Linked DNA regions of Homo sapiens: region 2 is linked to region 1. Evidence: fine-mapped expression QTL. A gene starts in region 1. The other region holds a variant in brackets. All regions are shown on one strand. Distances are between the middles of the regions.

Region 1 (11,147 bases):
ACCCCCCGCCGCCACCTCCCTGTCCCTCCTCCGGTCCGACCCTCACCTCGGGCCCGGTGCAGGCGCAGCGGACTGGGCGCTGCGCCCGGGGAGGTGGGTGGTTCCCGCGCGGGGGGAGGGTCGCACGACGAGGCGTCTGACTCCGCGCCATCGCGCTCGGGTTTGCAGTGCTCCTCGTACAAGCGTAGAGACGGCAGCGTCAGCTGCTTCCTGGGGATGAGCGGATGAACCAGGTCAGCGGGGAGCCCATCCCTCCATCCCTCCTGCTCGCTGCTCCCGCGGGCACCCGCCACAGGGCTGCTGTCCTCGGCCTCTCACCTTTTCTCCCGCCGGCCGTTCCCGGTGTCCCGGAAGCCCTTGGCAAACGGGTTGTTGTCGATCTTCAGCTGTGTGATCTGCGGGGACCAAGGGGGCGGCGCTAAGTCAGGCCGTGGCTCTTCCAGCGTGGTCGGTGGCACCCCGAGGTCAGCGGGTGCTGGCCGCAGAGGGAAGACCCGGGGAGCGTCCACTTGGTACCCACCCGCCTGGGATGGGACGCCCCGAGCTGAGGCCGGTGGGAGGGCCTCGCGGAAAGCGACGGGGTCTGTCCTCCAAAAGCTTCATTCGAGGAATTATCCCTAGACAGGCCTAGACAGCCCCACACAGGCCTAAAGCAGTGCCACAGTGTCGGAACCAGCCCAAGCATGCACACCCGCCCGCGGGCTTGCGCAAGTTAAACGACTCCGCACCCGAGCAGGCGCGAACAGAGACTGCAGTTCACACGCAAGGCTGCAGGTACACACAAAGCCAAATCACACTCACGGGCTCGCACACACGCAAGTGTGCACAGACATAACAAACGCCTACGGAACCAAACGAATTCACATGCCTCCACAGGTATCCAACACACCCCAAACGGGGCACGCACAGCCCAGCGTACACCTTGGTTCACAAAGCCACAACGACCGGCACGGACACTCGTACCCTCTCTTTCACTCGACAGTGGCGCACAAGGGCACAGGCCTAGAGGGGTGATGCTCTGCCCCACTAGAACAAGGGTGGAGAAGCCGCAAGCAGAAAAAGCCCTTTGATTGGAAGGTAATTCTCTAAGCGCCTCCCAAGGGGTCTGGGGCCTAGACTGACCCAGAGCAGTAGCCAGGAGTGCTTTGGGGGGCTGTGTCACCTGTCCCACCCTCTGGCTCCCCCCGAGAGAGTGAAAACTGGGCCCCGGGTTCTGAGCATCGGTAGAGCCTGGGCAGATTGCCTCGGGCGCCCTCTCTTCACTTACATTCTCATTCCTGAGCCAAGAAATAAACGAATAAAATGTAAAAATGTCAGCGCGGGCCCGGAGTCTCAGCTAATTGTTAAGTAAACATCTCCATCAGAACGACGGCCCAGCTGTTCGCTCGCCCCAGGGGAGCCTGTGTGTGCGCGCGGTGGGATTGAGAGGGCGCCTTGAGGACTTCCGTGAGTGCTGCGCGTATGGATGCGAGGCTCGGTGCTCGGGGGCGGGCCGCAAGAGCGCGGATCCCGTGCAGGGGGCTTCGAGGGGCGATGAACGGACGGTTGGGCCTGCACGTGTTGAGGGGCGTCAGTGCAGGGGCTTAGCCCACCGCCCGCCGCGCGCACCTTGTCATTCTGGTAGGCAGTGACGGCGATGAAGTCGGTCTCCGGGAACACGTAGGTGCGGAAGGTGCTGTAAGGCAGCTTCAGGATGTCGTTGGCTCGCACTATGTGGAAGCGCGGCTGGTACTTGTGCATGGAGTTTAGGATGGTCTGCGGGGAGGGTGGGGGTCAGCCGGCAGCCACCAGCCCCGGCCCGAGCTTTTCTATTCTTTGGGTACCTGACCTCTTCCTCTCCACTTTCTCTCTCTCTCTCTCTCTCTCTCTCTCTCTCTCTCTCTCTATCGGTTCTTCCTCTTCCCCATTTTCTCCTGTCTCTGCTCTTTTCTCACCCTTATTTCTTTTTCTTCTACTTTTCCTCTCGCTTTTCTCTTTTCACAGCTTCTTTTTCTCTTGCCATTAAAAAAAATTTCCCAGTTGGAAACAGAAATGAGACAGAGCAAAAACAAAACAAAACAAAAAACAAAACAAAAAAACCAACCAAAAAACAACCCCTCCCCACAAAAGAAACCCAAACAAAATAAAACAAAACAGAGCCCTACAATTCCACTCTTAACACTCTCTTCCTTTCTGGCACTGGTAAACCCCCTAACCCCACAAAGAGGAGATTCCAACCTTCGGGGGCTCACCAACTGCCCTACCTCAGAATGGGCAGTTCCTTTTACCCTATGAAACACCACCCCCGTTCGCTGGGGCCTTGCTCAGGCATAAATGGAGAGAACCCCCAAACCCTCTCCTCCTAGTTGGGCATCTGCCTGTGGGAGGAGGGAAAGGTCTTAGGGAGGCTGGGGGGGTGGGTGGGGAGGGTGGTTTAACTTTTAAATCCCCTAGTCTTGGGGGAGGGCCAGGGACGCGGGTCTTGGCAGAAGGGTGATGGACAAGTTGAGGTCATGGGCAGGTCTTCCAAGCTCGGCACCTACAGGCCAAGAGCAGGGTGACCTCCGTGGTCCAGCACTGCAGACCCAGTCCTGGCAGCACCTGCCTCCCTATTGACGGTACAAGGGACCCTCCACGGCCTGAGGAACTGAGATTGTGAGCTGCCAGCCACTGACCCCACCATTTCCCAGGCTTGCAAAGGAGAGCGCTGGGGCCCAGGCCCAGGCCCAGCCCACGTAGACCACAGGGCAGTGACCCGGGCAGGGGCACTCTGGGGGTTTGCCCAGCGCTTCCCCCTGGGAGATCCTGCCGCCCTGCTCTCCTGCTCAGCTGCAGTGCTGGGTCAACAAGCTCCTGCACCGTCCCCACCCTGCCCCAACACTCACGAAGCCGTGCTTGTCAGAGATGTTGTTGGTCAGCTTCAGCTTGTGGAAGGCCACAGGCTTAGCCATCCACTGCTCCCCCGTGGCTGGGCTGTCTGGGTGGATGTACATGCGTTTGGGCATCTCAGGGTCGGCCTTGCCCGCCACCATCCAGCGCGAGTTGTGGAACTTATAGCGGCAATCGTCAGCGGCTACAATGTCCATCAGCAGGATATACTTGGCCTTCTTGTCCAGGCCGCTGACTCGCACCTTGAAGGGGGGGAACATCCGCCTGGGAGGGAGGGAAGGGAGGAGATCCCATTGGAACCGGCTGTTCTAGGTTCCAGGACCCCACTCCTCCTTTATTTATCCCTCCTCGTTGCGCACACCGCTGCCGCCTGGCTGTTTCCCCTGTGGTCGGCTGCTCTGCCCTCTCATCACTGCCCGGACGACCCCACCTGTGGTTGTTGCTCCCAGGAGATCCCATTTCTGCCTGTCAGACCCTCTCCTAAACAGCCTCCTTTAGGCCTTGTGCTCAGATCTGGGGACCCTCTTTCTCCCTGATCTGAGATGAAAGCTGATGCCCAGGAGAGAAGTCTAGGCCCTCTAGAAATATTCTCGCTTCTCCTTAATCTCCCCGAAATTCGTTCAGGGGAAATACCCACTTGGGACGGAAGCTCCCAGAAATAAATCTGGAGGGTGTTTGTATTGGGAACTGGGCTACAGAGCCTGATAAGACATCCTGGCCGTGCAGTTCGGGGGAAGAGGGTGAACCCGAGGCCTGGATTCTCGGTGGCTGAGTCGAAGGGTGGAGGGGCCGGGGCTGTGGCTTTCTTCAGGCTTTAAGGCCTGGGGCGGCGGATGCGTCCAGGGCTCGGATGCCCGCGGTGGAGAAAGGGCTCCCAGCCCGGTGAGGCGGAGGGCTCGGCTGACCCGGGGCTCGCTGCCAGGAACCGAGCAACCAGCGTGGGGTTAGCTGGGCCCAGGTCCCACTAGGGGCTTCGGGGTCGGAGCAGAGTCTGAGAGAGGCTGAATTTCCCCCGAGCTCGGAGACGGACCCGGACGCAGAAGAGCGAGAGCGCGGGGCGGAGGAGACCGCCAGGGCCAAGCCGCGGGGCCTCCTCTGCGCTGGGACTCAGAACGGTTGGGGCTATTCTTTAGCAGTATGTTTTCGTTTTATTTCATTCGGAGGATTTTAGCGTTTTTGTTTTAAAAAAAAATCGCTCCGGTGCCAAACGAGAAAAGTCAACTTGGTTGTCCGTGGGAGCGAAGCGTGGCGTCAGGGCCAGAACCTGGAGCCGGGAGCCGGGAGCCGGGAGTCCCCAGCTCTGCTCTGATCCGTGCAGTCCCGTGCCCCAGCCCGCCCGCCCGCCCGCGCGCCTTCCAGCCGGCCGGCAGCCCTACCTCCCGGACTTGGTGATGACCATCTCCGTGCCTAGCTTGTGGAACTGGTCCCACAGCTCCTTGGCCTCCAGCGTCACCTTGGGGTCGTCCTCCACCTCGTCCTCGGGCTCCAGGCTCTTGAGGGAGCGCAGATGCGCGGCGGGCGGGTGCGGGCCCAGTGCCGAGACGTGCAGCCCCGCCTCGGCCGCTGCTGCCGCCGCCGCCGCCGCGGCCGCCGCCCCCGCCAGGCCCGGGTCGGGCAGCGGCTTGGCCAGCGCGCCGGGCGGCAGCGCGAGTGCCGGGAAGAAGGAGGGCTGCGCCGCCGCCAGAAAGGCGGACATGGGGAAGTCGGCGGGCCGTGGCGCGTGGAACGGGTGGTAAGCCATGGCGCTGGCCGCCAGCGCCGGCTCTCTCATCGGGACATCCGGCCCAGGCGCCCGGGGGCCGGGGCCGGGGCCGGGGGCGCGCGGCTCGGACCCCCGGCCCGGGCGGCGGCGCGCGCGGTGGACGGACGACCCGGGTGGCGGGCGCAGCAGCTGCTCCTCGGGGCTTCCCGTCCGGCGCACCGCAAGGGGCACCCGGCTCTGTGCGCGGGGGCGGCGGGGGCTCTGCGCGGGGCCGGGCTGGGCCGGGCTGAGCTGGCCCGCTCCGGCGCCGGGGACCACGCGCGACTGGTTAGATCTTGTCGTGATCTCTGGAAAACTGTGACTATCTCACATGTCCTGCCCAGCTCGGATCCCCTGCGCTAACGAGCCAGGCCCCCCTTGATTGCTGATTTTACGCTTTTTGGACCAATTGTGGGTCTCCGGGGGCGGGGTTTTGACAGCTCAGGCCAAGCTCCGGCCGGGAGGGGGGGCCTGGGAGAAGGTGTCGGAAGCCTCAGCAGTAAGAAAACATGTCAACAGAATAAAATATTAACCAATGACGGGCCGCCGGGCCCCGAGACCCCTCCTCCTGCCCCGGCCCCCACCGCCCGCCCGCGCCTGCGGCTGCCTGCGCCGGACTGGAGAGCGCGGAGGGCCGACCTGACCCGCCGAAAGGGCCTGAGGCGAGGGGAGCCCGGGTCCCGGGGCCTTGGGGAAGGACCCGCAGCCGCACGCCGGCCCCAAGTGCAAAGCATTGACACGACCCCGAGCGGAGAGGGGGCGCCCTCCTTCTCCCGCGCCCAGAGGCCCGGCCGCTCTGGCCCGAGCCCCAGCCTGGCCTCCGACCCAGCTCCGGGTCGTGGCGCCGCCTGGGGGTCCCTGCGCCCCGGAAAGAGACAGCAGGCACTGGAAAGCGAGGCCGGTGGGCGGGCGAGTCGGGAGGCTCGGGCGGCCGAGGTCCGGGAGCGGATCCCAGGTGGCGGGAGCTGGTGAGTGGAGCCATGGCCGAGCCCTGCTGGGGCCGGCGCGGGCGGGAGCGGGACGCGGCCTTGCGCTGGGGAAACGCGGGGACCCCCTACCCGCGCCCGCCTTCACCGGAAGACTCGGAAGGAACCTGGAGTTCTCCGCAGGCCCGGGCCCCGCCCTGAGCTTTCCAGCGGCCGGGAGGAGCGGATCCTCGGGGCCAGGAAGGTGAGCGCACCTTTCGCTGAGCACAGGGCGGCACCGCGCGGGCGGACCCCGGATTCTCCACCCGCGACCCAACGAATTTTCGCCCTATCCGGTACCGGAGACGAAAGTCTCCTTCTTCCGAAATACCGGCTTCCTCTCTTCGCCCTGCCAACCACTTTTTTAGTTTCTTCTCATCTCTCGGAAGCGCACGTCTCCTAAGTTAAGGAGTGCTGAGTAACGCGTGAGGGAGTTGGGGTGTCTGCGAGCACCTGTGATTGAAGCCCCCTCTTCTGTGATCAGTCTTCGTTTTCTGTCTTCCGGCAGCCTCAGTTTCCCCCCCATGAAGTGATGGTGTGTGTGTGTGTGTGTGTGTGTGTGTGTGTGTGTGTGTGTGTGTCGGGCCCCGTGTGGTGCCCTCTGTGCGCAGCGAGAGCTATAACTCAAGGTGTGCACGGGGAGAGTGAAGCGACCACGCACCTGCTTCCAATCGGGCTCGGGCGCGAACACTCAGGCTGATTCCTGAAGGTCGTTTTCTGAAGGAAAAGACAGAGCATGCACTAGCCACGGGTGACATTCCCACCCGTACAACCGCGTGGTGGGCGCGTACATCCAACATTGACCCATGCAGGCGCCCGCCCACTGCGCACACCGGTCGCAGGGCACTTCGTTGTTGAACGTTGGGAGCAGCGTTTGAAGGCCGGATCTCTCCTGGCAGTGCGGATTCGGGACCGGCGGAAGCAGTATGGCCTCTGCGACCGTTATCCCTACTTTTCGGGGCCGACCCCAGGGCCCTCACAACTCCTCATCACCGCATATGTGAGCGCCGCCCCCACAGGGTTTTCTCCACGACCTCGTTCTTGGCTAGGTCGCACCTCTCTTAGTACCTCCTCTCTGGCCAGAACGAATCTTTGACTCCGAGCTGCGCAGTCTACGCAGACGGGGCAGGATCCACTGCAGTTTTCCACAGGCAAATACCTGCTGGCTCCACCTTAGGCGAGATGTGGCCTCTCGGGGAGGGACCCGTTGTGGACACGTTTGCGCAGCCGGTGAGGTGACCAGATAATAACCAGGGCAGCTTTCCTTAGCCGGGAACCCAGGTACCGGCCTAGGAATCCGTGAATACATTCGCAAAGTCGCGCGCGCGCGCGCGCGCGTGTGTGTGTGTGTGTGTGTGTGTGTGTGTGTAGACACATACTTTTGTCCTTGTAAGAGTATGTGTACATCTAAATGTGTGCGTTTTAGACATTAGTCCATTTCATTAGTCCATCCATAGCTGGTCCAGGGGTCCGAGGCCTGAAGAGTTTGAAACACTCAGGCCTGGGTTATTTGACCGAGAAACCTGGCGGCGACAGTGCAGCGGCTGCATCTGGGGACGGCGACCCCACCTACAGTGGCACCGACCTTCCCTCTGGCTTTCCGGGGCTCTGTCCGGGCCAGGATCCCACCACTCGCCCCGCCCCGCGGTCCCGCGATCACCCTGAGGTCCTGCTGCAGCCGCTCTGAAGAGTCTGTAGCGACCCCCAGCCAAACTCTCCAGCTAGGAATGCCCGAGGCTCACCGAAAGCTGGCGCTGGGGAGGCCTGGGAGGCCCTGGAGCGGCGCCGTGAGGCCTCCGCTGGGCCCCTCCCCCACCTAGGCCGGCCCCCTCCCCCTTCCCAGGAACCCCCTCCCCTGGCGGAGCCCCGGGGGCCGAGTGTGCGTGTTCCTTTAAGAGGCCCCGGGGGGCGCCTCGCGGGCCGCCCGGGGCTGGAGGGGGAGGGCGCGGGCGGGGGCGGCTGGCGCCAGGCGGCCGAGGCTCCACAACAAAGCTCCGGCCCCTGTCACTTCGCATCGGCCAGGTCCCGCAGACAGGCGGGGGACGCGCGCTCGGCCGCCCCTCCCTCTCGCAGGCGGTCTCCGGCCAGGGCGTCGGGCGGGCTTGGGCTGGTGGCGCGCGGTCTGTGCGCCCCGCGCTTCCCGCAACAGTGAAATGGGGCGGGAGCGGGGACGGCCTGGGCCGGGTGGGGCCGCGGTCCTGAGCCTGGCGTGGCTGCCCTTCCGTCCTCCGGCCCCGTCACCTCTCGCAGGGTTAAGGGGCACTGCTGGGACCTTCCCCGGGTTGAGCCTCCAGGTGGCAGGGGGTCCCCGCCGCTTCCTCCTCTGTGTGCAGGGCCGGGGTTGCGTGACCCCGCGGGCAGTGGGCAGCAGGAAGCTCGGGCTGTGCGGCCGCGTGGCAGAGCGGACGACGGACTTGCGTCCGAGTGACGGGGCGCGGGCTGCAGACTGGCTTAAGCCCTCGGTGGCAGACGAATGTGCCCAGGCTAAGCTCAGGGGACGTGTGTGGCCCCGTGCTATGGGCCCGCTGTGAGGGTGCCGCCAGGCCGTCGATCACTGCCTGGACGTGAGGAGTGTGGTGGTGAAGGACACTCCCTGGACAGAGTCGCTTCCCATCACGGCTTCCCCGCCGGACCGCACCTCCCGGAGCCCTGGCGCCAGCCAGCCCGGTTTAGCGGCCGGACCGGGCTCCCCCGCGGTCCCAGGTCTGGTTGGGGTGGGGGCCGCGGCCTCGGTGACCCCAGCCCGCAGCGGCCCGGCCCGTCCCGTCCACTTAAACAAATTGCCGCTGACAGGCGCGCAGTCTCTCTGGAGCCGCCGCCCTCCCGTCGCCTCCCTCCCGTCCCAATTATCCCGCGCAGGGTGGGGCCAACTGGCTGGGATGGGGCGGGGGACGCGGGGAGAGCGGGCGGCTCGACTCCCTCCTGGTCGCGGGGTGGCCCGGGGAAGCGTCTCCGCAGCCACGGCCTGTGTGGCCCCGTCCCTGGTCTTCCCGGGGGATGCGAGGGCAAGGCCCAGCCTGGCAGCTGTGGGCCCTGGAAGGGCGTCGTTCTGCACCTAAGGGCGAGATCACGCGGCCGAGAACCAAGGCCGCATCCCGGATGGACTTCGGGTGACTTTCCCGGAGTTCTGGGGAATCCCCTAACCCGGGGAGCTGCAGACGACTCACTGGCCCCGGGCCGCGGTTCCGCGGGTGGCCGCTGTACGCTTGAGACACCTGGTCCGCAGAAGTCAGGTGCACGTCTGTGCACCGTCGTGCGTTGGATGTGCATGGAGGCGAGATCGTGGTTATGGATGTCTGGGATCACGGGAGCGTGAACGGGGCGATCGACTGAGTGACTTGAGAGACGGGGTAGAGCGCAGGAAGGACCCCTAGGACGGGCCCACCTGCGACGGGCGGCGGTGGGGGAGTGGGGGGCTTGCCGGCGCGTTCACAGGCTCTGGGTTCGCGTTCGGAAACGCTTTCGCAGGGAGCGGGTCGGGATTCCCCGGAGCAGCACGGTGACGGCGTGCCACAATCCGGGCTCCAGCTGTGCCGCCTCCGCCCTCCCCATCCCTGCTAAGGGGCACCTGGCCTGGCTGTCAACTTCCCCTCGAACCATGGGTTTGCCTTGTGGACCCGCAGCTTCCCCTCTGCCTGCTTCTGCTCTGTCGCGCCTTCGGAAGGGCATGCTGCTCTCTCCCCTCCACTCCCTCCTTTACACATGAGGACCCTGAATCCCAGAGGTGCAGTCATGTACCCAAGGCCACGTACCTGCTGGTGGCAGAGCTGGGATGGGACCCTGGGACCTTAAAGAGAGCAAGTCCAAACCCACTCCTAAGAAGCCGGTGCTGCTGAGCTGCCTACCCCTGCTCCTACAGCAAGGTGATCCTGAGATGCCAGGGCTGCCACCCTCCCCTGGGCTCTTGCTCTGAATTCGAGACATACAGGATGCACTGTCCCTTTGCCTCTAGAGCCTCCAGTTCTAGGTCTGCAGTGGGAGGGCTGCCTTCCAGCTACACAGGGGCAAGGGAGCAGCTGCAAATTCAGTCTCTCAGCCCAGGCAGGAAGCCTGATGGAGTCAGGATGGGGATCAGTGGGGTCAGCATTCTGGATGGGATAGGGGCACAGGACAGGGAGGTCAGTTCGGATTTGGGTCCCTCTAAGGGAACTGGCCAGGGTGTGAAGCAGCCAGGTGCAGACAGGGATAGGCTCACTAGGCGTGTGACTTTGTGACCTTGGGCAAGGCCCTGCCCTTCTCTGGGGCTCAGGCTTGCTTGTCATCTGCAAAAAAAATGAGGCTCGAACAGAACTCTCAGGTACTTTCTAGTTTCATGAGTCCCTGAATTGTGAAAATAAAAAATTACCACTGAGAAACCATATACACTTCCAGACTGGTGGCTGCCTAGCCTGGCCTCTGCTCCTTGACAGAGGGGCTGGCCCTGGTGTTTGAGCTTGTGTGCTTGAATTGGCCTCAGGCCCACCGTGCCTTTTCTCATCTCAGACAGTACTCTTGCTCCTTCAGTTGCCACGCTGGCTCCCACCGGCCTCTTTCCAGATCATGAAGGTATTTTTCCTTCATCAAATTGAGAGGAAGTCCGTAGTAAAGCTGCCCGTTGACCAGGTAGTGCCGAGAGAATCGGTAGGTCACATGGATTCCTAAAGGTCCCCTGATCAGCCACAGTTTGATTCATGTTCTGATGCCCTCCCAGATGATGCCACCATTAGGTCTGCTGGGGCTGGGGGTGAGTCCCAGATTGCCCTGGATGTTATCTGTAGAGGATAGGAAGCGGCTGCTCTGGGGCCAGTGGCCAGTAAGGTCCCCAACCCTGGGGCCCAGCTCTCCCTTCCAGCTGATTACAGGCTATGGCAGGCTCCATAACCTCCCCAATTAGCCGGAGGCCAGGCCCAAGGCCTTTCTGATAACCTGAGCTCCAGTGGCAGCCGCTGTGGGGCCAGCTTATCTGGTCTCTCTTATCCTCACCCTTCCCCCACATACTCAAAGAGTTGCCCTGACTTCAAGCAGATGAATAACCAGATTGTCCTGCAAGCTCAGCCGGCAAGTCCAGCCCTACACCCACCACTTTCCCTGCCTGGGGGAGGCCACAGCTGTTTTGCCCCTGCTGGAGGGGAAGGGCCGGGCCAGGGAGGACTCCTGACTCTGTAAGCTGCCAGCCAGTTCCCTGAATGGTTGAGAGAGCCCCTGGCAGCAAGGTCTCTGCCACATCCACGTGTCCTGGGGTGGTTTCAGAGGGGCTCATGCTTCCTAGGGCAGCTGAACCCATCCCCAGGAAGACAGGCCATGGGCAGCATGCACAGGTAGCCTGGTAGCACTCTCCTCCTTGTCCCTTTTTGATTGAAACATGGCTGTAGCTGGGGGTAGGGGCAGTGCCAGGCCCATCAATAATTCAGCAAGATGGGGAAAAGCTGCAGCTCCTCCAGCACCCCCTGCTGCTGGGGCCAGGCTAGTGTTCGCAAGCATGCCTCAGTCTGGCATGTGACTTCTCGCCCTGCAGGTGCCCTGGCAGGAGGGACTGGCTTATGCCACCCTGTGCAGGATCGTCTTCTCAGCTTACAGAGCCTAGTGTGATTCAA
Region 2 (11,147 bases), 150 kb after region 1:
GGGTGGAATGCCAGAATTCTGCCTTTTTTTTTTTTTTTTTTTTTTTGAGATGGAGTCTCGCTCTGTCTCCCAGGTTGGAGTGCAGTGGTGTGATCAAGGCTCACTGCAACCTCCGCCTCCCAGGTTCACGCGATTCTTCTGCCTTAGCCTCCTGCGTAGCTGGGACTACAGGCGTGTGGCCACCACACCCAGCTAATTTTTGTATTATTAGTAGAGATGGGGTTTCACCATATTGGCCAGGCTGGTCTCAAACTCCTGACCTCGTGATCTGCCTGCCTCGGCCTCCCAAAGTGCTGGGGTTACAGGCGTGAGCCACCACGCCTGGCCAGTTCTGCCCTTTATTAGCAATGTGATTTTAGAGTTTCTTTCCCTAAGCCTTATCAGCAAAATGGACATGACAACACCGATCGCAAAGATTGAGATCTAAATGGAAATCATGTGAGCGGAAATGCTGTGTAAATAAAAAGCATAATGTAAATTTTTTTTTAAATCCAAAAATCTTGATTTTGGTAGAGAAAATACCTCAAAGAGAACCTAGGTTCACCTCCAAGGAATTACTCAGAGACTTATTTATATGCAGTACTAAGGTTCACCTTTTCTTGTAAGTGGCTCAAATACCATCTGCATGGGCTGGGGTTGAGGCCTGAGAAGATCACTTTGGGTCCTTGTGCCATGGCATACCAACAACCCTGAAAGCCTCAGGTTTCTTTTGAAATGATTATTTTTGTGTTACTCTGTCTCCAGTTTATCTCTGTATCCAAGGCTCTCTGGTGACACAATTCACTGGTTTCAAAGGCAGGAAGTGGGCAACAACCCTGGACACATAGCACTCCATGGACAAAGACACCTAAACAAAACCAAACGGCCAGGCGCGGTGGCTCACGCCTGTAATCCCAGCACTTTGGGAGGCCCAGGTGGGTGGATCACTTGAGGCCAGGAGTTTGAGACCGGCCTGGCAAACATGGCAAAACCCTGTCTCTACTAAAAATACAAAAATTAGCCAGGTATGGTGGCCCACGCCTGTAATCCCAGCTACTCAGGAGGCTGAGACAGGAGAATCACTTGAACCCCAGAGGCGGAGGTTGCAGTGAGCCTTGATCACACCGCTGCACTCCAGCCTGGGCGAGAGAGTGAAACTCTGCCTCAAAAAATAAAAATAAAATAAAATAAATAAAAATAAATGAAAAACAAACAAACAAACAAACAAACAAACAAAAACCAAACTACCTCTTGGCTTGAAGATGGAAGGCTTGACAACCCCAGGTAGTCTGATCTAAGTGAGGGTCATTTTGAAGGTAAATATAGTACTTTCATGTTAAAACAGAAACCTCAGTTACATAAAGCCATTGGCCCATTTCTCCTGATTACCAGTAGAGGCTGATGGAGGCTGGAAAACATTTATTAACTGAAAGGTTAAAAAAAATCAGAAAATAAATATGGTACAATTATGACTCGGAGTTTCAGAAAATAACTTGTCAGTTTGACGAGACTCAATTTTCAGGGGAAAAGAGAGCAGCATTTCCCATCTCTAAAGTCTAGGAGCAAATCTCTTCATAGTACTTGGTAAGAAAACCATCCACCTTGAAGTCCAGCCCCAGCCACTTCTTCAATTAGGTGTCACTCACTGAACATCTAAACAAACTGCCAGGACTTTACCACAAATAACTTAGGGAAAAGAAAGCTGTGATAAGGTTCTCCACAAGAGCAGCTACATCCGGAACCCTTTAGCACTAAAACCCTGCACAGTGTGGTCAAATGAAGAAATAGTCTAGGCTTCCAAAAGAATAAGAATTCTGATGGAGAAGTGTCACTCAATACAGACACGGCACTTAAGCCAACTACCCAGACAAAAGTACAAAGCCAAGTCTACTCTGATTTCAGCACTAACATTGATTCCACAGGGTGCAAAGATGTGCCCACTGTGTTTCTGGAGAAGGATGGATAGACTTAGGGGTATTGATGCGCTACAAAAGCCTCTGTCCCCTTGGTAGTCATACCAGTTTCCTGAGATACTCTCAAGACATCATCAAATTAAGAAGAAATGTAGGAAAGTGTGATGTGGAAACTAAAGAAGGTATATTCTGGAGATCTGGAGGCTGTAAGGGAAAGAAACTTGGGCACATTCATTTAATCTCTCTTCTTACCTTGTCGGGTGACCTGGAGATGAGGAGTTATGCTTGAGATCTTTTCTTTGGCAACTGGGAATGAGATTAGCTGGGAGAAATACTTTTGACAAGCACCAGAGAAGAGAAAACTTAACTCTCGGATAGAGATGTGGATGGAGAATTGGTTCCAATCTCTGGTAGTTCCAAAAAGAGCAACATGTGAAACTTCAATAAGTCATTGTGCTCTCCCTGTGACAATTACAGCTCTTTGAAAATCTGCCTTAGTGCCTTCAGAACAAATTGAGATTAATGAAACCAAAGTCCCAAAGAGGAAAATACCAGGAAAAAGAAAGTAGGATGACACAACAGGGCTGTTTCAATGTAACCAGGCAATGTCAGAATTTTAAAAATTTAAAAGGAAAAAGCTAAAATGTTCTCACTGAATTTCTAGTTGGTTTTTCCAGGTAATGGTTTTGTTGTTATTGTATTGTTCTTGGTCAGGATGAACGACTTTTCCAGCAATCATATACTATACTCACTGGGTATTTAAAGCAGTATAAATTTTCTAATCCTTTTTTTTTTTTCTGAGACGGAGTCTCACTCTGTCACCAGGCTGGAGTGCAGTGGCGCAATCTCGGCTCACTGCAACCTCCACCTCCCAGGTTCAAGTGATTCTCTTACCTCAGCCTCCTGAGTAGCTGGGACTACAGGCGCCCACCACCACGCCCAGCTAATTTTTGTATTTTTAGTAGAGAAGGGGTTTCACCATGTTGGCCAGGCTGGTCTCCATCTCTTGACCCTGTGATCCGCCCGCCACGGCCTCCCAAAGTGCCAGGATTACAGGCGTGAGCCACCGCGCCCCGCCATAAATTTTCTAATCTTAAAGTTGATCAAACATTTTAGCAAAACAGGAAAACTGACTTGACACTAGGGCAAAGGAGAGATAAGAACTCAAAGGAAAAAACAATTGAGGCATCAACTAAGAAAGTAATTTTACCTTCTAAATCAGTGAGCCTTGTATTAAGCAAAGAAATGTGCATGTCAGAGTTGTTTAAGCATTCTGAAAGCAAGCCCTCTTTACGGCAGAAGTGTTCTGTGAGGCCTGAAGGGACACTGCTGTGGGTGAGGCAGGAGCAGCCCAGCAGGGTTAAATCTCCTGAAGGTTTTAAATAAAAAACAAACATCCACTTAACTTTTATAGGGGATTGCTCTCTAATAATACCTAAGGAAGGAGGCCGGCTCTCTTGAGTTTTTTCCTCGGGCTTGTCTCCATGCTGACTGAGGAACCAGGTCAAAATGAGGGTTTTAAGTAGGGTCCCAGTGGGCCTGATGTAGAAGAAAGGCTAAAGGAATTTTAGATCTTATGAGTATTATCCTAAGGCTCTTTCTTCTCCAGTTTTCCTTTTATATGTAAATTAGACAAGAGAGCTCTACTCAATTACCAAGTAAGGCTAGCAAGACATAAGGCAAGTCACTTTTTCTTTCTGCGCTTCAGTTTTCCCCCATGTAAACCGTGGAGGCCGAACTGTAATGTATACTTAATCATCTCTAAAGTCTCTTTCAACTAAAACTATACAACAAAAATGGAAAGGCAAAACAAAGCAAAAACAACAATAACATTAAAATCCACCTCTGCACCTCTGTTCCACAGCTGGAATCTGAGCACAGGACTTTATGAAGCACTGGCCCAGAGGCATCCGAGATTCATCTTCCCCTCTACTCAGCTGCCCCTCCTCCAATCCTGGGTCTGACCTTCTACTACCATAGAGCTCATACGCCATGCCTAGGCCGTAGGCCAAGTTCCTGGGACTGCTGATGTAGCAACTGTAGAAATAGTAGTAGCAATAAGACAGATGATAGTATAATGCTAATAATACTATTATTAATGGGAATAGATAACATTATTGAGCCCTTATTCCATACCAGGCACTGTAAATGTTACACATGTTTATTCTATCAATCCTTGTAACTCTGTGAAGCAGACATTGATTATATATATATATATTCTCTCCAACTCCTGACCTCAGGTGATCCGCCTGCCTCGGCCTCCCAAAGTGTTGGGATTACAGGCGTGAGCCACCGGGCCCAGCCCAGGCATTGATATTATCTCCATTTTGTAGACAAGGAAACTGAGACTGAGACATAGAACAGTTAGGCAAGTAGTAGGAACAAATGGTATAGCAACGGGCCGGGCTCAGTGGCTCATGCCTGTAATCCCAGGCCTTTGGGAGGCCGAGGCAAGTGGATCACCTGAGGTCAGGAGTTCGAGACCAGCCTGGTCAACATGGTGGAACCCCATCCCTACTACAAAATACAAAATTAGGCATGGTAGCACATGCCTGTGATCCCAGCTACTTAGGAGGCTGAGGCAGGAGAATAGCTGGAACCCAGGAGGTGGAGGTTGCAGTGAGCTGAGATCACACCACTGCACTCCAGCCTGGGCAACAGAGTAAGACTCCATCTCAAAAAAAAAAAAAAAATGTATAGGAACAGATTACTGGACAGCTTTCTAGAGTCAAAATCCAAGGAAGAAAGGGCAGCTTAGCCCAGTGAGGTAGAAGCCAGTGTGTTTAGCAGACTAAGAGCTGACAGATATGGATTCCACAATTGGTTCTATCACTATGGTTGTAAGCAGGTCAATGTCCTTGTCTATAAGCAGAGGGCAGAGGATGAGATAACCTTTAAGGCCCTTTTCACCTCTGCCACTCTACATGAGGAACCATGTTCCATAAGGACTCAAGGACTCAGCAACTGTTTAATTCCCAGGCTTTTTTTTTTTTTAAGTCCTTCACTTCTATTTTAAAAACTTGCATGTTCCCGTGGCCCTGGAATGCCTGCCTCCGGCCCCTCTGGAGCCCTGGGTTATGTGAAAGCAGCCGTGCCAAGCTGGCCCATGGGCGGGGCTGAGTCTTCCTGGCTGGCTTGTGACATGTTCTTGACGTACTGTGTGGTCAAGAAGCTGGAACTGGGGGGGCTGAACAAGGGCCAAGCCTTGCACTTCAGCTTCCTGACCTGGCAGCCATTCAGAGAGACCCTGCTAAGTGCTATTTCCTAAATACACTCTCTTTTCATAACAATCTTACCACATTGCTTTCCTTTACAAGCGCTCTTAAAAAAGAGAACTGGA[C/T]TCCTTCTGGTTAATCTACACAGACTACATTTGGAAACCATCAGAAACTGAACTCTAAACAAAACGTTATTAATGTGTTGTAATCTGCCCTCTATGTTGCAGATGAAAAGAAAATGTTTTATAGTTTTGGAGCATACGTTTTAATTGCCTTTTAAGAGTGCATATACTTTTAGTACTTCGTGTTATAAAACTGTAGTATCTGTTTCTTGATAACTGTTGAGTGATCTCAGCTATTTTTATTAGTTTTTTTCTTTATCCTTTTCTCTCTTTTTCTTCTAAACTGCCACCCGTGTAAAGTTCCTTGAGATCAAGCTTGATAGAAGGCTCACATATTTGGGATCTTCATTATAAAGAGCTTCTTTACAACCTCCACCTCACTATAAAACACTTGTTCCTGAAAATGAGTTCTATAAACAAAGATGGAGTGGGTAGCTTTGTCTAATAATCCAGTATAGCTGGGAACCTAGCAGTCTAGCCTTTTCCCAGTTGCTATTGCTTTTTTATGGGGGCCAGATTATCTGCAGAGATCTGATGTTCTTGCTACTTTTCTCAACTGTACAGCCTTGTCCCAAGAGACCAACATATCAGTCATCAACCCAGAGGTCTCAAGGGCAGCATCTTGGATGGACCAGGATCCAGTCTTTCTTTTCTTTTTTTTTTTTTTGAGGTGGAGTTTCGCTCTTGTTGCCCAGGCTGGAGTGGAATGGCGCAATCTCGGCTCACTGCAACCTCTGCATCCCGCGTTCAAGTGATTCTCCTGCCTCAGCCTCCCTAGTAGTTGGGATTATAGGCGCCCGCCACCAGGCCCGGCTAATTTTTTGTATTTTTAGTAGAGACGGGGTTTCGCCATATTGGCCAGGATGGTCTCAAACTCTGACCTCAGGTGATCCGCCCGCCTCAGCCTCCCAGAGTGCTGGGATTACAGGCATGAGCCACCACACCCAGCCCAGTCTTTTTTTCAGCAAGGAATCCCAAATTCATTAGAATCAGGCCTTGAGTTAACAGACTCTCCACCAGCTTATCATCAGCCTGACAAATACTGTCTGGGACACCAGGCTGAGGCCTCCAATGTCTCACCTTCCAGCTGGGCAAGCACTGCCCAATTCTTGCACCAGTGATGTAAGACTGGCTCACAGGAAATGAAATGACCTTTCTGAATGAAGGGTTTCCTGGGGGCAGGGCTGGAGGGATGAGGGTGTTTCACCATCTGAATTCTTGGGGAGGAGGAAGTAGTAGAATTAGACACTGGTCTCCCAAGGGGTCCATAGTCTTAAGACCTCCCGCTCATGTGAAGTACCACAAAGGCACCCACAAGTCATAAAACCTTTCTGAGATTGTCTAATGTAGGATAATGTTCAAAAACCAGACTGATAGAGTCCTTGGGCCAGAAGGGCCCCATAAAGATTACCTGGTTGATCACTCGTTTTCAGGTGAGGAAGCTGAAGCCAAGGTGGGCAGTAACTCGCCCAAGGTCTCAGTCTACAAGTATCCAGAGCTCAGCTTAAAAAAGCCTGGTTTCTAGGTCACATACTCACAGCATGTACATGGGTTAGTAAAGGAGAGATCACTGAAAAGAATGCCTTTTAGCTGTCCGAAAACGGGAGACTGTGCCCCTTAATTTCAGTTTCTTTTTAGAGATAATCATCTTCCTTATCTCAAACATTAACTCAAATGTTTCTTATGATGTCTCCAGTGCTTCCCTAATGCCTTCATGACTCACTGGATATTACGGCTTGATACAGCACAGAGCAGTGCTCAGTTACAACCTTGGTTTCTAAAGCAACTCTTTAAAATGAAAAACAAGCCTTCTCTGGGTCCTCTTTCCATCTCGTACAATATATTGAAAATCCTTTCAATGGCTTAGCAGGTCCTATTTTCACAACATGTCAGAACTCACAAGTGTATGAAGAAGCCGTTGTTTATAAATCTTCTCATGTTTAAAATTACCAGGATTGGTAATTAGGTTTTCTTCCCTATCCTCCCTTTGGTAACCTTTTACTTCATATTTAGCACATTGCTGAGGGGGATAAACGATCTAGGAACACTGAGGTCTTATGTTTGTCAAATCATATGCAGACAATTATGAAGGCAAAGCTCTCTACTGGGCCCAGGGTATGAACTTTCCTTAAACTTCCACCAGACAAACCCAGGGCAAGGGGCCTGGTGTCTTCGACCTTCCTTATAGAAAAGCAGGGCCATTTCGTAACCTTCTCTAGTTTTACAATGGCTGCTCTTATTTGGTATCTTGTTTTCTGATCCTCTTTAAGCCTGCCTCATTCAATTTCTGATTTGTAAACTCTGGGGCAGGTGATATTTTAGTACCCTAAGAAATCATCTCAAAAGGGAGCTTTAAAAGCTTTAAATGTGATTGGGTCATCACATTTTTTTTGTATTCCATGGGTCTATCAGGTAGATAACAGAAAGTTTTTTCCCTTTTGACAGATAACAGATTAAGGTGTAGTAATTATCAAAATAATGGGCAGAGAGCAGCTACTTAAACATCCTTGGAAATAACTCCTGTGACCATGATTTCACAAGTATTTCTAAATAATTCTGAGCTTCCTAAAACAACACGAGAAAAAGAATTTTCCCTTAGATCAGTTAAGGGAAAACTCTTCCATTCTGTAGCTTTTGTATTGGCGTTCCTAAAACAAACTATTTCTTCAGCCAGAGACACAATTCTATGTTGGGACACTAGAGTCCATCTCTGCTGTTGAGATCTCTCTCCTTCAGATTTTAGCAATATAGTTTTGGGTGTGTTTCATGACCTTTTGTGCTAGCAAATAAGCCTTTGGAGGATTAAAATTAACTTTTCTCATCCTAGTTTAAGGAGTGCTCTGCTCTGGGAACATCAAAAAAAGGCACAGGCCTGAACTGAGCCAAATACCCACTCTAGCAGTGCTGGTATTATTTTCAAGTTTCTATTTTATTTTATTTATTTATTTTTGAGATGGAGTTTCACTCTTGTTGCCCAGGCTGGAGTGCAGTGGTGTGATCTCGGCTCACTGCAGCCTCTGCCTCCTGGGTTCAAGTGATTCTCCTGCCTCAGCCTCCCGAGTAGCTGGGATTACAGGCACCCGCCACCATTCCCGGCTAATTTTTTGTATTTTTAGTAGAGATGGGGTTTCACCATGTTGGCCAGGCTGGTCTCAAACTCCTCACCTCAGGGGATCTACCTGCCTCGGCCTCCCAAAGTTCTGGGATTACAGGCGTGAGCCACCAAGCCCAGCCAAGTTTCTTATTTTAAAAACAAATTTTTGCAGGAATAGTAGAATACACAGGAAAAGAATATATATTCATCTAAACAACGTCTTATCTTTAAGAGCAAAGAAGAAGGAAGTTTTATAAGTATTTGACAGTATACTACTTCTTTAAGATACTCCAAGTGGTTTGAAGTGTAAAAGGTGAATATACTGCTTCAAACCTCTTGACCTACAGGTCTAAAATAGTCGCTCATCTTGTCCTATGTGTCCTAGTACAGACTAAATAGAATATTCAAAGAAGTCCTGGTATCATTTGTGTTAGGGGCCTTAAAAATCAGGCTATCAGGGTTGGTCATCTGCCACAAAGCTGGCTAAATTCCCACCATGATACACTTCTGAAATAACCATTCAGGACTGAGGTCACTGCTACTTCCTCCCTGCTGAGGAAGCACAAACCAGACAAATTCTCACCAGATGGACTTTGCACTCTAATCTTGTATATTACCCCTCCTCCCAAGGCCCAAGGCTCTCTGGGAATTCATGCCAGGCTGGGACTTAGACCTTCAACTGCCAGTATCTTTACGAGTTGTTTTCTTTGAAAGACCTGAGAAATGGGTTGCAATAATCATAGGAATGGTCCTTTAGATTTTCTTTTTGGAATTTTTTAAAGTAGTATCAGCCACAATTCACAAATATATTCCTTTACCCAAGACAGAAAACATAGAGACAAATTATGTTAAACCATCCAATCCAACTCAGAAGAAAAAATCAGGCCTTTATGTGCTCCAGTCTTCAGAAGGACTCAAATAGGGTACCACCTACAAAAGAGATAGGATCAGAAGAAGTTCCCTTGGTGGCTTTGTTGGGGAAAGGATCCAAGAAGTGCTCAGAAAAGCAGAAAGCTCTCCAAAAGAAGCTAATTCAAAAGAGATTTCCAAGTCAACATCCAAACCAAAGAGATGTGGAAAAATTCAGAAAAGCATCCTAACAAAACATCCCAACAAAGTACCCCAACTCCTTTTTGTAAACCCACAACTGGTAGGAACAAAGTTCCAATGTGACAGCCTTTCAATGCCGCAAGTTGTAACCACAAGTGCGGCTGCTCTTCTAACATTATTTTCTTTGGGAAAATTACATGGGTGGGTAGGGAAGCAAACCCAAGAGGACTGCAGTTTACAAGGCCTGAGGCCTGGTTGGTGAGATCCAAGGAACCTAGAGGCGGGGGCCTGATGGTAGATAGGAGAAAACTAAGCTGATTGCACAAAAGGGCTAAGATCTCCAGCCACTCATCAGGTAGAGTATGCTGCTCTCTACTTGCAAAACTGCTTAATAAAATTTTACTGCCAAGTCAAAAGAAGAAACATCTGCTGTAGTCAAGAGCAGCTGTGGTCGGCAATAAGGGACTTGGCACATGGTCAATGCTGCTCTTGCTGGTAGGTGGTATTGTGGTCACCAGTAATTACTTTGGAGAATTTCATGGAGTCAAGGATAACTAAATGGACAAAGAACATTTTATTTTACTTTCTATCTTTAGCCCAAGAGCAAAAATCGTGACATGTACAGAATTCAGAAGCCCAATGAATCCATACTTTTTGTGGCAGAACTTTTTACCTCAAAGACTAGAAATACTTAAATATAAGTATTTTAAACAATATATTTTTGATAAGTGACCTCTCCACTCATTATTTCTGATTGAACGGTTCCTGAAGATTATACTAGTTTTCAAGTGTTTTCCTTCTGAAAGATGTATTATAGAATACTATAAGAAAAATGTGAAAATTATACTTAGCAAATCAATAAATGGTTCAGGTTTTTAAAAACCTCATCTTTATCAAATTTGCATGCTATCGTCAAAGTTAAATAACTTTACATTGAGTAGGAATTGGAGTGTAAATAAAAGTCTGATGTATTCATCTGTGATAATTTCTCATGGAATGATGAATGTCAGAAAGTAGCAGTGAAATTAATATACACTGTACTTAAAAAATTAAACACTTGGGAAATAACCCTTTGAGCCACTGGAAAATGATAAAGTCTAAGACATTTCAATCAAGTTAATTTCGGTACTAAAGCAATGCATTTTTCCCACCAGAAACTATATGAAAAAACAAATTAAACAAAATGGGTCTCCGAATGATGGGATAACATCAGGCTCATGGAAAACATCATGATTGCTTTGTCAATTAGGTTATCACACACATACACACACACACACACACACACACACACACACACACACTCTCACTCAAAGGCAAAACTACCCATATTCATTTTAAATCATGTCAAGGCTGAATGGTTGATATTGTATTAAAACAAAAGCATGACTTGCATTTTAATAAAGAAAAGGAAATTCTCTTGACAACCAACAGAGCTAACTTGTAGCAACTGGTCTAATTCCAGTACACAGGCTCCAGTGATGCCGTGTCAGGTGCCACCCCTAGCCTACACCTAACACCAAGGCTCCTACATTGACTTCTGGTTGGTTGCGGAAGTAAAAGGAGAGACCTAGGGGACTGGGGGAAACAACATAAATCTTTTTTTTTTTTTTTTTTTTTTTTTTCTGAGACAGTCTTGCTCTGTTACCCAGGCTGGTGTGCAGTGGCACCATCTCGAGTCTTAGCAACCTCTGCTTCTGTGGTCCTCTCGCCTCAGCCTCCTCAATAGCTGGGACTACAGGCACATGCCACCATGACTGGCTAATTTTTGTATTTT

Direction of the effects. Positions count from the first base shown, and alleles are read on the strand shown. Sizes are in standard deviations (SD) of each study's normalised expression.
As copies of T replace C in region 2, the expression in thyroid of the gene that starts at base 5,210 in region 1 goes up (large effect, 0.77 SD a copy in GTEx).

What was found. PIP is the estimated chance that this variant, and not a neighbour inherited with it, causes the effect. A credible set is the group of variants that fine-mapping cannot tell apart.
Region 2: its variant is the best candidate, but not a certain one, in a credible set for the expression of TBX2-AS1 in thyroid (GTEx, PIP 0.56).

What each region holds. Positions count from the first base shown.
Region 1 is chr17:61,393,669-61,404,815 of GRCh38, reverse strand. TBX2-AS1 (TBX2 antisense RNA 1) reads left to right here and starts at 5,210. Exons shown (of 2, transcript NR_125751.1): 1 at 5,210-5,577; 2 at 11,069-11,147. It overlaps TBX2 (T-box transcription factor 2), which reads right to left and starts at 4,973. Exons shown (of 7, transcript NM_005994.4): 1 at 4,245-4,973; 2 at 2,865-3,132; 3 at 1,609-1,755; 4 at 319-395; 5 at 47-210. The coding sequence starts at 4,639. RefSeq lists a cis regulatory region at 4,889-4,900, promoters at 4,889-5,136, 4,756-6,016 and an enhancer at 7,137-7,688.
Region 2 is chr17:61,246,320-61,257,466 of GRCh38, reverse strand. All of the region lies in intron 22 of BCAS3 (BCAS3 microtubule associated cell migration factor), which reads right to left. Among named protein-coding and RNA genes, the nearest start is that of BCAS3-AS1, 120 kb to the right of the region's middle. The variant C/T (reference allele first, on the strand shown) is at 5,233.